Linked DNA regions of Homo sapiens. The main gene of each other region encodes a partner of the protein of the gene in region 2 in a complex. Each region holds a gene or a part of one and is shown on either strand. Other genes may lie near its edges.

The links.
Region 1: MBIP (region 2) and KAT14 share a complex: the UniProt entries of both Homo sapiens proteins name them as parts of the ADA2A-containing complex.

Annotation. Positions count from the first base shown.
Region 1 is NC_000020.11:18,182,703-18,188,588, forward strand, and holds the end of KAT14 (cysteine-rich protein 2-binding protein), read left to right. Parts: intron 1-420; coding exon 421-596; intron 597-1,899; coding exon 1,900-2,090; intron 2,091-4,583; coding exon 4,584-4,757; 3' UTR 4,758-5,333; downstream 5,334-5,886. UniProt on the Homo sapiens protein: Component of the ATAC complex, a complex with histone acetyltransferase activity on histones H3 and H4. May function as a scaffold for the ATAC complex to promote ATAC complex stability. Has also weak histone acetyltransferase activity toward histone H4.
Region 2 is NC_000014.9:36,310,555-36,317,767, forward strand, and holds part of MBIP (MAP3K12-binding inhibitory protein 1), read right to left. Parts: intron 6,259-7,213; coding exon 6,139-6,258; intron 4,362-6,138; coding exon 4,137-4,361; intron 4,055-4,136; coding exon 3,958-4,054; intron 1,471-3,957; coding exon 1,405-1,470; intron 1,172-1,404; coding exon 1,019-1,171; intron 1-1,018. UniProt on the Homo sapiens protein: Inhibits the MAP3K12 activity to induce the activation of the JNK/SAPK pathway. Component of the ATAC complex, a complex with histone acetyltransferase activity on histones H3 and H4.

The DNA.
Region 1 (5,886 bases), on a different chromosome or scaffold from region 2:
CTGGGCAGGCACAGTGAGAAGCAGTTTGTGAGCCTGCTCCAAGCTCATTGTGTCTCTGGTGTTCCCCAAATGCCCCGCAAAGTTGAGTGTTCCCTCTTCTGGCCTCCAAGGCACTGGAGATGCATCCTCATGTCTGACTCCTTGGGGTGAATCTGATGCTGTATCTGTTTCCTCACTGTTCATGAAGGCACCTAGCACAGTCCCTGGTGGGTACAGAGGGCTTTGGCCTGATGAATGTTCAGAGTGAATTTTAGATTTCATACATAAAAGTATAGCTGTAATCAAGCCAGCTTCGTGTAAAACAGTGCAGGTTACTTTAAAGTTTCAAGCAGATCAAAGAGTTTATATGAGTCAAAAAGCTAGGAATAATACCAGGTATTTTTCTTGACTTGAATTTGTTTATCTTCTGTGGTACCGGAGGCGTGATTATGAAACAAAGCCACCCAAACTGCAGCTCCTGTCACAGATTCGTTCCCACCTGCACAGGAGCGACCCTCACTGGACGCCGGAGCCCGACGCACCTCTCGATTACTGTTATGTGCGGCCAAATCACATCCCAACGATCAACTCCATGTGTCAGGAGTTTTTTTGGCCTGGTATGTTCCCCCTCCCAAACCAGGCAGGTCATTTTTCTGTACAGTCCATTCTAGCAATTTTTAAAATTAGTTTATGTGATATCCTTAAGATTTTTATTTATGATTTCGTTTAGTTTGTCTCTGCTAACATGGAAATATTAAAATACAAATACCTCTTGCTTTCCCAAAATCTAGAAGAAGCCAGCAATAAACAGTGTTTTTGTTTGTTTCTCTTCCCTGTTTGTCTCTGTTTCCAGAGTAAAAGATTCATCCTGTTTTGCTTCTGCATATGTTTAGATACCAGGTAATGTCTATCAAAGATACACAGACTGGTAGCTTGGGCGTGTTTGGACACTTTTGTTTTTGGCTTAATAATTCTTTATGTTTTGTTTATTTAGCTGTTCCTTAGAGAGTATTAGTACAGCCAGAAGGTGTTTTTTAAAAGCCAAATGCCCTGATCACAGACTGAGAATAAGGGTAAACCCAATATAATTTGTCATTTTATCAGCCTTAACAAAATTGCCTCTGAAGACCAAAGTCATTAATTAAAGGAACACATTTGCATTGCTAAATATAAACTATTCTTTGTGGATCTGCTTTCCCACGCTGCCTTGAAACCTAAAGGAAATAATACATGTCTTTCAGATGTTAGATACGATTTCATCAAGATAGAGCTGTGTCGTCTTTATTGTCACATAATCACATAACTGTGAATGTGGTGGCAGAGCTGCACTCATTCTTTTGGGAGTCATACTGAGCCAAAAGTAACATTCTGGGAGCATCTCCTGCTTCCTGCCCTTATGTTAGGTGCCTTCCATACATTATGCACAGAAGCATATTTTACTTATTTATTGTGAAAGGTAGCATTTGTACAAAAGAACTTATAAATTATATGTGTGGGGGGTAAAGGATGTGATAGAACACGCTCGGAGGATCTTTACTTAACCCTGTCAGGTCTAGGTATGCTCTTCATCTTACATATTGCAGAAACGGAGTCTCTGAGACATTTTGAAATGTGCCAAGCCACACATGGTAGAGGAGGCTGAGTTCAAAGCCAGCTGTGTCCAATTCTGAACCCGTGCACTGCTACCTACCCTATTCTGCCACTCTTCTTTTAGGAAATACTATGTAATTTCAATATTTTCTAAAATTCACTCTTATTTTTATGATCTGGTTGTGTGGTCTCTATGTTACCTCCAGTTTTGGTGTTTTTTTTTTTTTTTTTTAGCATGCAGGTGTAGCTATATGTACATGCTGAACAGCTTGGTGTTCCTTAATTCTCAAAGGCATGTGGTTTGAGTCTCCGATGGTTTCTTTTCTTTAGGCATTGACCTGTCTGAGTGTCTGCAGTACCCAGACTTCAGTGTTGTTGTTCTTTATAAAAAAGTCATCATTGCCTTTGGCTTCATGGTTCCTGATGTGAAATACAATGAAGCTTACATTTCATTTCTGTTCGTCCACCCTGAATGGAGAAGAGCAGGGATTGCAACTTTCATGATCTATCATCTGATTCAGGTAAGTTGTCTATGTTTATGATTTATCACCTGTGTCTGGGCTCCCCTGAACAACCTGGAGGAGGAATGAAGCTGAGCTAGCCCTTCCCAGCATGGCCCAATGGAATGGTTTCCTTGTAAACCAAGTGAAGAAAGCCAGTCATCAGCATTCATGAGGTTATCAAAGCACACAGTCAAAAATCTTCGACCCTCTAAAATAAGATTATTATTCAGACTCAGGTTTCATAGAAACCAGTTTGTGAACATGTGTATAAATAAAATGAGAAAATACCAAAAGCAAGAGCTTTAGGGTGGACTATTCATATTAGTAGTAGCTACTGCTCTTAGGATCATCACCTTCGCAACTCAGAGAAGTGAGGGTAGGACTATTATTTTTATTTTTTTAAATATTTGTAAACATTTTAGCACAACTGTATCAATAAGAATATGTATATATTTTTTGAGACAGGGTCTCATTCTGTCACCCAGACTGGAGTTGCACAATCATAGCTCACTGCAGCCTCAACCTCCTGGGCTCGAGTGATTTTCCCGCCTCAGCCTTCTGGGTAGCCAGGACCACAGGTGCACACTGCCATGCCCGGCTGATTTTTTGTAGGGACAGGGTCTCACTGTGTTGCCTGGTCTGTGCTTGAACTCCTTGGTTCAAGCAATCCTTCCACCTCAGCCTCCCGAGTGCTGGGATTATGGGCATGAGCCACTGTGCCTAGCTACATATTTTATTTTTGCTGATAGTTTGTAATTTTACTATCACTGTATAAGGCTGATATGAACCTTCTAAGATTTGATTCTAGTATTGAATTATAATTCATCCTTTAATATATTTGTATCACCTTTGAAGAAAATACACCATATATCACCATCAAAAAACATGCAAGGATTTTTTTCCCCTAGAATTTTTTTTAGTCAACTTTTACTTAGAAACCATTTGGTATGGAGGATTATATGTTTATGCAGGCAAGATTCCTTTTAAAGAGGAGATGAAGATGATAAAAGTTGTTTCTCCAATTTTTAATGAAACTTGCTTAATAATTCCCAAATGTTGGCAGGAACCTTGGAACCATTTTCCTAGAAATTGCTTTCCTTCTCTCCTTAGGCAGTGATTATGTAAATCACTCACTGAGTAATTAATATGTGCTACTTTGGGTGGTGGTTTTCTCTTGAGAGCTTCTCAGTTATTTCTACAACACTCCCTTTCTCTGCCCCATCCCAACCAAGAGTTGATCTCTCAGTATGCGTCTTTTTAACCTAGGAGAGCACTTAGAGGATTTGCTGCCGTATCTGTCACTGGTAAGGGCCTGAAGACAGGGCACGAATAGTACTCTGTCCTTGTGTGTGTGTGTCCTTGGTGCCCAACATGAGGGCTGGTACAGAGTCAGTCCCTGCTGAGTGTTTGCGAGGCCACTGGAGGAGTGGTTCATCTTTGCAGGTGGGCACCTTCCCCTCCAGCCAGACCATACCCCTGAGGGCCCAAACATAGGTGGCGCACAGTCGCTGGCACTCAATGATGGCCACGGTGAGATCACGTATATTTGCAATCTAGCAAACACCAATATGACCCCACAAAATTTGCTTTAAAAACTCACAAAGTGCTCTTGTCCCTGGCATACTGGTAAGTGCTCTCTTGTCCTAAAAATGCCTATGGATACACATGGAAGTTAAGCAGAGAAAGCAGGTAGCTATCAGATGACTGTCAACAGAGGAGTTCTTAGAGGCCTGAGAGAACCATGGGTTATAAATCTCAAGGACTCTATCAACTTCAGTATTTCAGTGCCTTCTTTATTAAAAAGTAAGTTCTTAAATGATATGACTTTTGGGACACCTTACTCTGTGTAGCTGATTAAAGAATCTAAGGACTTGCCTTGTGTTGATAGAATGATTGTTACTCTTTTCCCCTAAGATTAGGTCAAAGCTGAATGTAGAAATCTCAGTTCTAAGAAGCTAATTCTGTCAGTTTTAGAGAGACAGAAGGTGGACTTTGGGATTCAGAAGGTCTATACAAGGGCCTCAGGTTTTATAATTACATTCTTAATATTTCATGTTTGTGCATGTAATTTAGCAGGCCTAGTAAAGGAATTTTTACAGGTTTTGGGGAGGTACAAGATAACATCTAGTTTTAAAAAGCAAAACTTATTTTGTTTTGTATTTATTCAAGGTTATCATAGTGTTAGGTATTGAAATGTTTGACATATTTAAAGGTAATTGAGTTGTAAATAATAAAGCTGACAATAACAATATCCCCATTGACCCTTTGCTTCAAAGAAAAATAAAAAACACCCAGAATACTATCAGTTTCCTTGGTCTTGTGAATGTTTTGATCAGCAGCAAAATGTCATTCTGTTTCCAGCTGTTGCTAGGTGTTGCAATGTCTCAGCCTCAGTCTCTGATTTCTCCGGTTTCCATAACTAACTGCCTACACTTAAAAGCGTTTCTTTACCTACTCATTTTCCCTCAGGCCTTTCCATTTTTATCTTGTATTTTTCCACTCTTTTGGCAGACCTGCATGGGCAAGGACGTAACCCTTCACGTCTCAGCAAGCAACCCCGCTATGCTACTGTACCAGAAGTTTGGATTCAAGACTGAAGAATATGTATTAGATTTCTATGATAAATATTACCCATTGGAGAGTACAGAGTGTAAACACGCATTCTTTCTGAGGCTCCGGCGCTGATGCGAATACAGCTCACAGAGAAACGCATGTGCTATTGGAGAACAGGTCTTTGTGGAGATCTAAAGGCAGTGATTGATTTCACAGGGAGCTCTAATCTCTGTGATTACATGGTCCTTCAAACTCCCAACCAAAGTGAGAAAAGCGGCATGCAGTGAAATGAGCAGTGAGCAGCCCTTTAGCAAAATCGCCCTCCAGTCCTTCCTGGAGATGCCTTCAGCCAGCATCCCAGACTCCACAGTTATTTATGAATGATGTCGTGATTCTCCCTCCACCTGACAGTTTGTAAGAGTGAAAGAGCATCTAACCTGATGCTCTTGGAGAGAGATAACCTGTCTGTCATAACTTAAAGGATGAGAAAATGTGGTGTAGCTATTAAAGATTCATGCAGTCCCAAAAGGCACTGTCCTGGGATGATGAGAGATTATAAGGTGATTTCATAAAAGGAATCCAACCCTGTGCCCGGCCATTGATGTGTTGTCATTGAATCCAGGAGGATTTCTAGGGCACTGAAGTTTTGTTGTTTCTTTTGCTGACTTTGGTTACAGTCAGAAAAAATAAACTAGATGTTTGTGTCTACATGTTCTACCTGTTGTACCTATTAGCATCTTCCTGCAGGGACTTGGGCCCATGGCCTGGGAGGTTGGTTTGGGATTGGGGTTGTTGGGCAGCCTGCCATTCACCTGGCCTATCCTGGCCCTTCTCATGCCCAAGACAGTTGTTTCACAGGAGTGGAAGTGTGGGTGATGCAAGTAGAACCCTCTAGATGTACCCTGTGTGGTCTGCAGGACTGGACTGTTTGCTGTGTTTGTGGATGTTGGCGATAGACTGTCAATTAGGTTGTTTGTGATCCAACAAGAACATTTCCAAAAGTATCTAGGTGTTCTCAAATAAAAAGCTTTCTTTGCACAACCCATGGCCAGAGCGTCAATCTAGTCAGTTTGCTTTCAAACCCTCTTTAATTAAGATCAGTGGTTCTTAACTTTTTGGGACATGGATCACTTTGAGAATACAAAGAAAGCTGAATACTCTCTAGAAAACTGTCATGCACATTTAAAATTTTGCATCAGGGATCTGTCGACCACAAGTTAAGAACATCTGTTCTAGAAGCTGTACTTGCAGCCAGCTCGAA
Region 2 (7,213 bases):
GTGCCAGGCACTGTAATAGGTACAAAGAAATGAATATGACAGACATAGTTGCACTCTCACGGACTATCTAGCAGGAGACAGACATTAAACAAACAGAACCATGATAACTGCTTTAAAGGGGAGCAGGGAATACCAGGTGCTATATAAGATTATACAAAAGGTGAATCTGCACTGGTCTAGGATTAGGAAGAAAAAGCATGGACAGAAGGGCATGAGTATAAAGATCCTAAAGCAGCACAACGAGTGGGAGATGGGAAGCCCAGAGGTGTAGCTGGAACTACAGATGTGGACAATACTATTTAAAATTACAAACCCCCTTCAATCCCAATCTCCACATTTTTAGCTGGGAAGAAACAAGATCAAATTTGAGCTTTAGAAAAAGCAATCTGGCCACAGGGTAGAGATGATCTAGAGGAGTCCAGTGGCAAAGAAACCAGTAAATATCCTTCCATCAGTCCAAGCCAGAGATCACAGTGGCTTCAACTCTAGTAGTAGCAGTAGAGATAAGACAGAAGTGGGCAGATTTGAGAGATATTTATTTAGAAAACAGAATCAACAGACATGGTGACTAAATGGAGAGGGAGACTCAGTCTCTGCACCCAGTGAGGACTTGGGTTTGAGCAGGGTGCAGTAGTGACACATGATTGTAGTCCCACTGACACAGGAGGTTGAAGCAGGAGCATTACTTGAGCCTAGGAGTTCAAGTACAACCTGGGCAAGACTGGACTATCTCTTTTTTCTTTTTTTTTTAGAGTTGTCACTTAGTATCTTAGGCATGTTTGCTTGGGCTCTTTAAACTTCAATTTATTTATCTGTACAGTGATAACACCACCACCATCTCAAAAGGGTACTATGACCTTTTAAGTGAATTGACATACACATAACACTTCCTGAGTGACTGGCACTTACTGTTCAAGAAATGTTAGGAGCTAAATGAAAATTTGGTGACTAAATGAACTGCAATTTTTTAACCATTTGCAAAGGTTCATTATGAGGTGCCACTTAGCACTTTGCTTACCTGTCTGTAACCGCAAGTGGGCCTCAATATTTTGTAGTCGTTCTTCTACAGCCTGATTACCACAGTCTCGAAGCATGCTGTTAGGTTTATGACCTGACCCTGGAATTCCTTCAGGTCTAGTCTGTGGTCCGTATGTATTCACAACTCTAGAAACTAAATTAAGAAACTTTTGAGCCTATATACATTTGTATTTCAAAAATCAGAAATTCTTATTCCTTAACAGCACTTTATATTTTTTTCATAAAGACCATCTAACCACAAGTATGAAGGACGGCAAGATGTTTTTGTTTTAAAATAAAATTTAGATGGGAAAGTTATTTCTATTCCATTTTGCTAATAATCTAGACTTCTGTCAGTGACTCAGATGTCATGTGGTGGTTACTTACCTTTTACGTGACTTTTAAATCCGGGGTAAGGGGTAAAAATCGCATCAGTTCTTGCACAACTATTTTCTAAGGAGAATTTAGATAAATATAAGTTTAAATATATTCTTCCCTTCAAATGTATGAGATTTTAATAAACTTTCAATAATTCATATTAACATTTTACTCATAATAATTTTAATAAATAATAGTAACAATAAATTACTATCACACATAGGATAGAATTTAGTGACCTTCTTTACCTGTCAAAATTTATCATAATATCTAATATTCTTACCTAATGTTCAGATTTATATACAGAAAAGCCATCAACATTAAGTGGCACAAATTGATACAATTTTGAAAACCAATGTCACTATTTGGGCCACTGGAGAAAATAATCTACCATAGAGTATTTAAATTCTACTTCATCGTAGAAATAAAACTCATCATTTTTACTAGAATTCTTTTAATTCAGCATTTTTTATTTTAATGACCAAATTAGTGAACATCCAACAAAAAGAATTATTTAACATTTTTATTTCAGAACTCCACACAAAGATGACCTCAAAACCTCAAGTACACATACATTTCCACTCTACCTAGATTTCCAGTGCTCATTTTAAAAACCCTTCATCACAAAAGTCATCTACTTCTTCTTATCCCACCACTTTTCAAAAAAGTTTCATTTTAGTAAAGGTCTATTGTGAAAATTTGTCCCTATTTTTTTCCAAGCTGAAAAGTAGTTTCTTTCAAATTAAGTATCAATGCATAAATTACAAAAGGGGAAAATTGGAAAGATGTTAACATATAATACAACTAATTAACATAATTGTTATATATTAACATACGATACTACATAGTAATAATATATACTTATGTTTGAAATAATGTTTAAAGGCCACACATTGGCAGTAAATCTCCTGTAAAATTCCCCTGAATATTTTGTAAAAAATGGCTGGTAAATGAGATTCTTTAAAAAAAATTATTTTTTCCCCCCTATGAAATTTGATTTTTAAAAATTCCACTGCTTATAGTTAGGTTAAATTTGTAGGTATTAAAAGGAACACACTAACATATTAAAATACATTTGTATTTTTTTCAGTTGAACTTTCCTTAGTAGTTCTGTTGATAAATCAAATAGTATGCATAAAATTCCAAATCCACTTAGCTTTTATATCTAGAGACTAAATAGACATCTTTCCTCCTTTTTTTTTTTTTTGGAGGCACCTCAAAATATGCTTAAAGGGCCATCCTTTCTCCATTCTCTTCCTACCATTTCATGGGGCTAAGGGTTAAAAAAAGAAGCTATCATCCATTCCAGAACTATATTCCAAACATATAGATTAACTGACCATCAGTGAGAAATTCAGCATGGTGTGAGTGTATGACTGCTAGTCACTCTCCACAGCAATTCTTGCTAGCACTGTTTTGAGCCAGCAAAGAATTGAATGGGCCAAGGAATCCTGCTGAGCATTTCAATTCTCGTCAATTTCTATCCCCTGGTGGTTTATAATAATAGAGTTAGCAGGGAGAACAGAGGAATAACATTAGTGACACATGTGCTTGCTCTCTCAACAAACCCTTTCTCATAGTCGCTTGTAGTTGGTTGTAGTACCTGAGATTTTGCCATTGTTGCACCTGTTCTGAAAAGCTAACAGGAAAATATACCAAATTTAGAGATGCACATGTGTAATGTTAATAGTAGCACACAGCTAAATTCAGGACCCAATACCAGCCTATATTATTTCATTAAGAGAATCAGTGTACCAATGTGATATGAGTCATTTCTAGGTTCATCTGACAATTCTATGTTCATAATAATTAGCCATGAGATATTAGAGGCAACAAGAAACATGTTCATTCCAATTATGAACTCTTCTCCATAATTTTTCCTAAGAACTACTTGTTCTGATTATTACTATGGTGCCTGAGTATAATCTATGGCACTGCATTGCAATATTTTGTATTCTGCAGCATACTTGCAGATTTGTAAATGTACTATAGCATCAAGTAGAGAGGTAAAGGTGAATCAGATGAAAAACAGCAAATGTATGCACTATGGCAGAAAGGAAAAAAGCAAGACACCATGGTCTTCATGATAAATTGGTTGTATCGTGACACAGGACATTTCAAACAGCTCAGGAGTAGTGAGAAAACTGCTCCCTCTGGAGGAATATTAACTTTACTAAGTTCACTTACGTATTAACATCATGATTTCACAGTACATGTATAGGTTTGAAATTCATAGAGCTCAGTTCCTTTTACTAGTGAGATAGATCAACCTTCTCACTCGTACCTCACCTTCATTTCCTAAAGGAACTTTAAAATAATCTTCACCTGTGATAAACACTTTTTAATGTTAGCATTTACTTTGTGTAACCAAAATGAAAACCAGTTTGCAATATAGTCTATTATTAAGCAGAAGGAAACTCTACTGTCTTAATTACTAACTAAATCCATGAAATAAATTGAATTGTGTTCTAAAAGCTATTCATTTAAAAAATAAATAAAAGATTAGAGCAACTATAAAAATTGTGCTTAAAACCCTATGAAAATTAATTTCCAGGTAGTTACCTTGATTACAATCAATAACATTGCAAAATTCCCTGACGTTGTTTTCATTGATTTCAGCTTGCTTTCTTTCAATAAATGCAGATATTCGTCTGTCAATCTACAAACAACAAGTTTTAACAGTGTAAACATAAGATTTTTTAAAATAATACCCTCTCGCCCCCGCCAAAAAACCTTCTTACTTCTGCTTTTCCAGCCTTTATCTGAACTACTTCTGGATCAAAATGGATCTGTGTCTTTTTCACATCTCTTAAATCACTTTCTTTGTGCTTTTCTTCCTCTTGTAGGTCGCCAATGGAAAATTTGTCATTTACTTCATTTTTGTTCCCCATTTCTGTTCTTCCTATCTCTTCAACAGCAGTTGTATTCTCCTCTTTAATCGGAGACTGAAGTTTTGCTAAAAAAGGCTGAGAACAACACAATTCCATCTGCTGAGGTTCAATCTGACCAAAATTAATTACACACTTAATATATTTACATAAATTTCTGCTAAGTAAATGAAATACTTAATATCAGTTAATAAATATAAAAAGTTGGTATACCAGGACACATAGATCTGACCACATATAAGTACTCACTATTCTCTGCTATTGTAACCATTATCATTTGCTATAAATTTGTTTTTTAAAAAAGGAGAGAGGAAAAAAGAAAAGAAAAAAGAAAAGAAAACCTAAGGAAATTTAAAATTTTCTTTGAGAGAATCATTCTGTCACTCATCTTTTATTTTGTGCCAAATCAAAGCCTTCAGCCTCTGGCACCAATGCCACTTAATTAACATGTCATTCAAATGCCTCCTCAGAACACTAAGGCTTAGTATTTTTCCTCCTTAACACGAGAGCTAGTGCTCTCACTCAGCAAAGCCCTGCATTATCACTGTATCACTGGAGATTCTCCACTTGAAACTGCAGTTGGCCAATGTGAATGAGGAAGCATAGACATGAAATATATAGGTGTTAGGCTGAGTGAACACTCAGACTTTTCCTGACATGGCAAGATATCTTTTGGTCATAAAATTAAATTTTAAAAAAGAAAACGAACAAGAAAAAAAAAAGATCTATAGCTGAAAACAGGCAGAGGCCTATCACTATACTACAGGGGGAAAACCCCTGTTGTAGAATTTAAACTATATTACTCATTTACTGTTCCCCTCCCCCACTCCCCACAATGAGGTCTCATTTGAGTTCTAGAGCTCACTGCTCTGCCCTTTAAAAACAGGGTTAACTATTACTTTTAACATGAAACAGTTAAAATTTCCCACAAAGTCAATGAATGGAGGGCTGAAAATTAATGCCTATTCCATTAGTCAAAACACACTAACACTAATAACGTTCCAATTATTTTTTTCATACCTACAATTTTGCTTCCATTGTTCGCTATACTACTCTTTTGAAATCTTATAACACCTTAATCACAGTAAACTGACCAATCCAGTTTTTCCACTTATCTTTTTGACACTTCACATTTTACACTTTGATTAGAGATAAACTGCAAACTTACATCAATTATAATTGCAAAGATGTTCAATTAGAAACCAGCAAGGTCATAATACTGTTCAGTTATTAACATGAAATATTTAAAAATATAACAACACTATTATAAATACCAATTCAATATTAACTTCTAATATAAAGAATGAATTATTTCAAACTGTTAAGGAAAAGAAATGATAAAATAGTGACTGGCTACTTACTAAGATGAGACATTAATGTCATAGAAATTACTTTCTTTTTAAAAACTATGCTGAAACTGTTTAATTGCAATAGACACTCCAGGATGTGTCATGCTGGGATAATGCCCCTTCTTGAACCACTGAAAGCACTCCATGAGCCTCCAAACTCACCCAAGGCATGGAATCATTATCATAGCATGACACACACCTGCCGTGTCTTATTGCTTAATTATAACCCACCATAGATGGAACTGTATTGAATTTTCAGTGCAGGTCTAGAATTGAATAGAATTGCATTCATTCACTCATACCCACATTGGTCTTTTGGGCTATATTCCCTTAACTGTCCTGATCACTACTGAAATTAACAGATTTAGATTAAATCCGGATGTAAATAACGTTTTATTAGCAACACTATTAATATAGTGTTTAGAACTGTCAAATACTCCAACTAACTTAACCACAATCAATTTCTATTTTCAATATCGGGTTATCATTTCTAACAAGAAATTTACCTGTAAATATAAAATGTGTTGTTCAAGTGCACTAAAGAGCAATGCAGGCTGGAATGCCGAGAGGCTCTGGAGCTTGTTCCAATCGATTGTAATTTTCACCACATCATCTCTGAGGTCAAGCTTCAAAGGGGCAAACCAGCAACATCACAAAAATTACACGATTAAGCTCTACATATGGAATTGTCACAAAAATAAGATTTCTAGAGTAACGGGTCTATTTTGCTCTAAGTTATCAAGTTTTTAATAATACACTGAAATGCTCTACCCAGTTACCATTTCAAAAGGCCAAGAAAGCTACAGATTTTCATAAAAAAACAAAAACAAAATGACATGTCGTTCAAATTCTATTCTTAGGTCTGTGTAATGGGACCATTTTAGAGGTAAAACCATTCATGAAAGATGAAAAGATGAAGGCTCTTTTGATACTTCAATATATACAAACCTTTGGATGGAGTCCAATATAGGCTTGCCCTATTCAGAATCCTACTACTTCTAGCTCAGAGCCTTAAACAGAGGAAGTACAAGTGTTTTGTGAAAGTTTTAACATGCATCTTTCTCTTTAAGTATGTACACAAATACATATCAGAAATATATCATTATTCTGATGTCCTCCAAATCACATTTTTAGTTTTTTAACTTTTAACCGATTTTTAAACTAATTTAAAAGTCAAGATTATTCATACATATAAAGTGTAGGGATAAATGGCAACATGTTTATTTCAAATAAAAAACTATTATTTAGCAATGGAAGTCTGAAGCTGAAAAACAAAGACTTCTCCACCACAGTGAAATAAGTTGTCAGACTGGATGAAATGTCCAGATCTTTTGTAAATGCTAAGATGTGACAGCTCATTATATGGAAATTTCTATCAGTTGGTGATCTAATAGAATAAAATCATATCCAGAAAACTACCAAGAACCTGAATATAAGATTATTATCAAAATGAGTGAAAATTTTACAATGAGAGCGCCCATCTGCAGTCTTTTGAATGAATAAAAGTGAACCATCAAAAACTTTTCTAGGGACATGTGTTTACAGCATAGTATAAGACTATACTTCATAGTAGAATCAAGT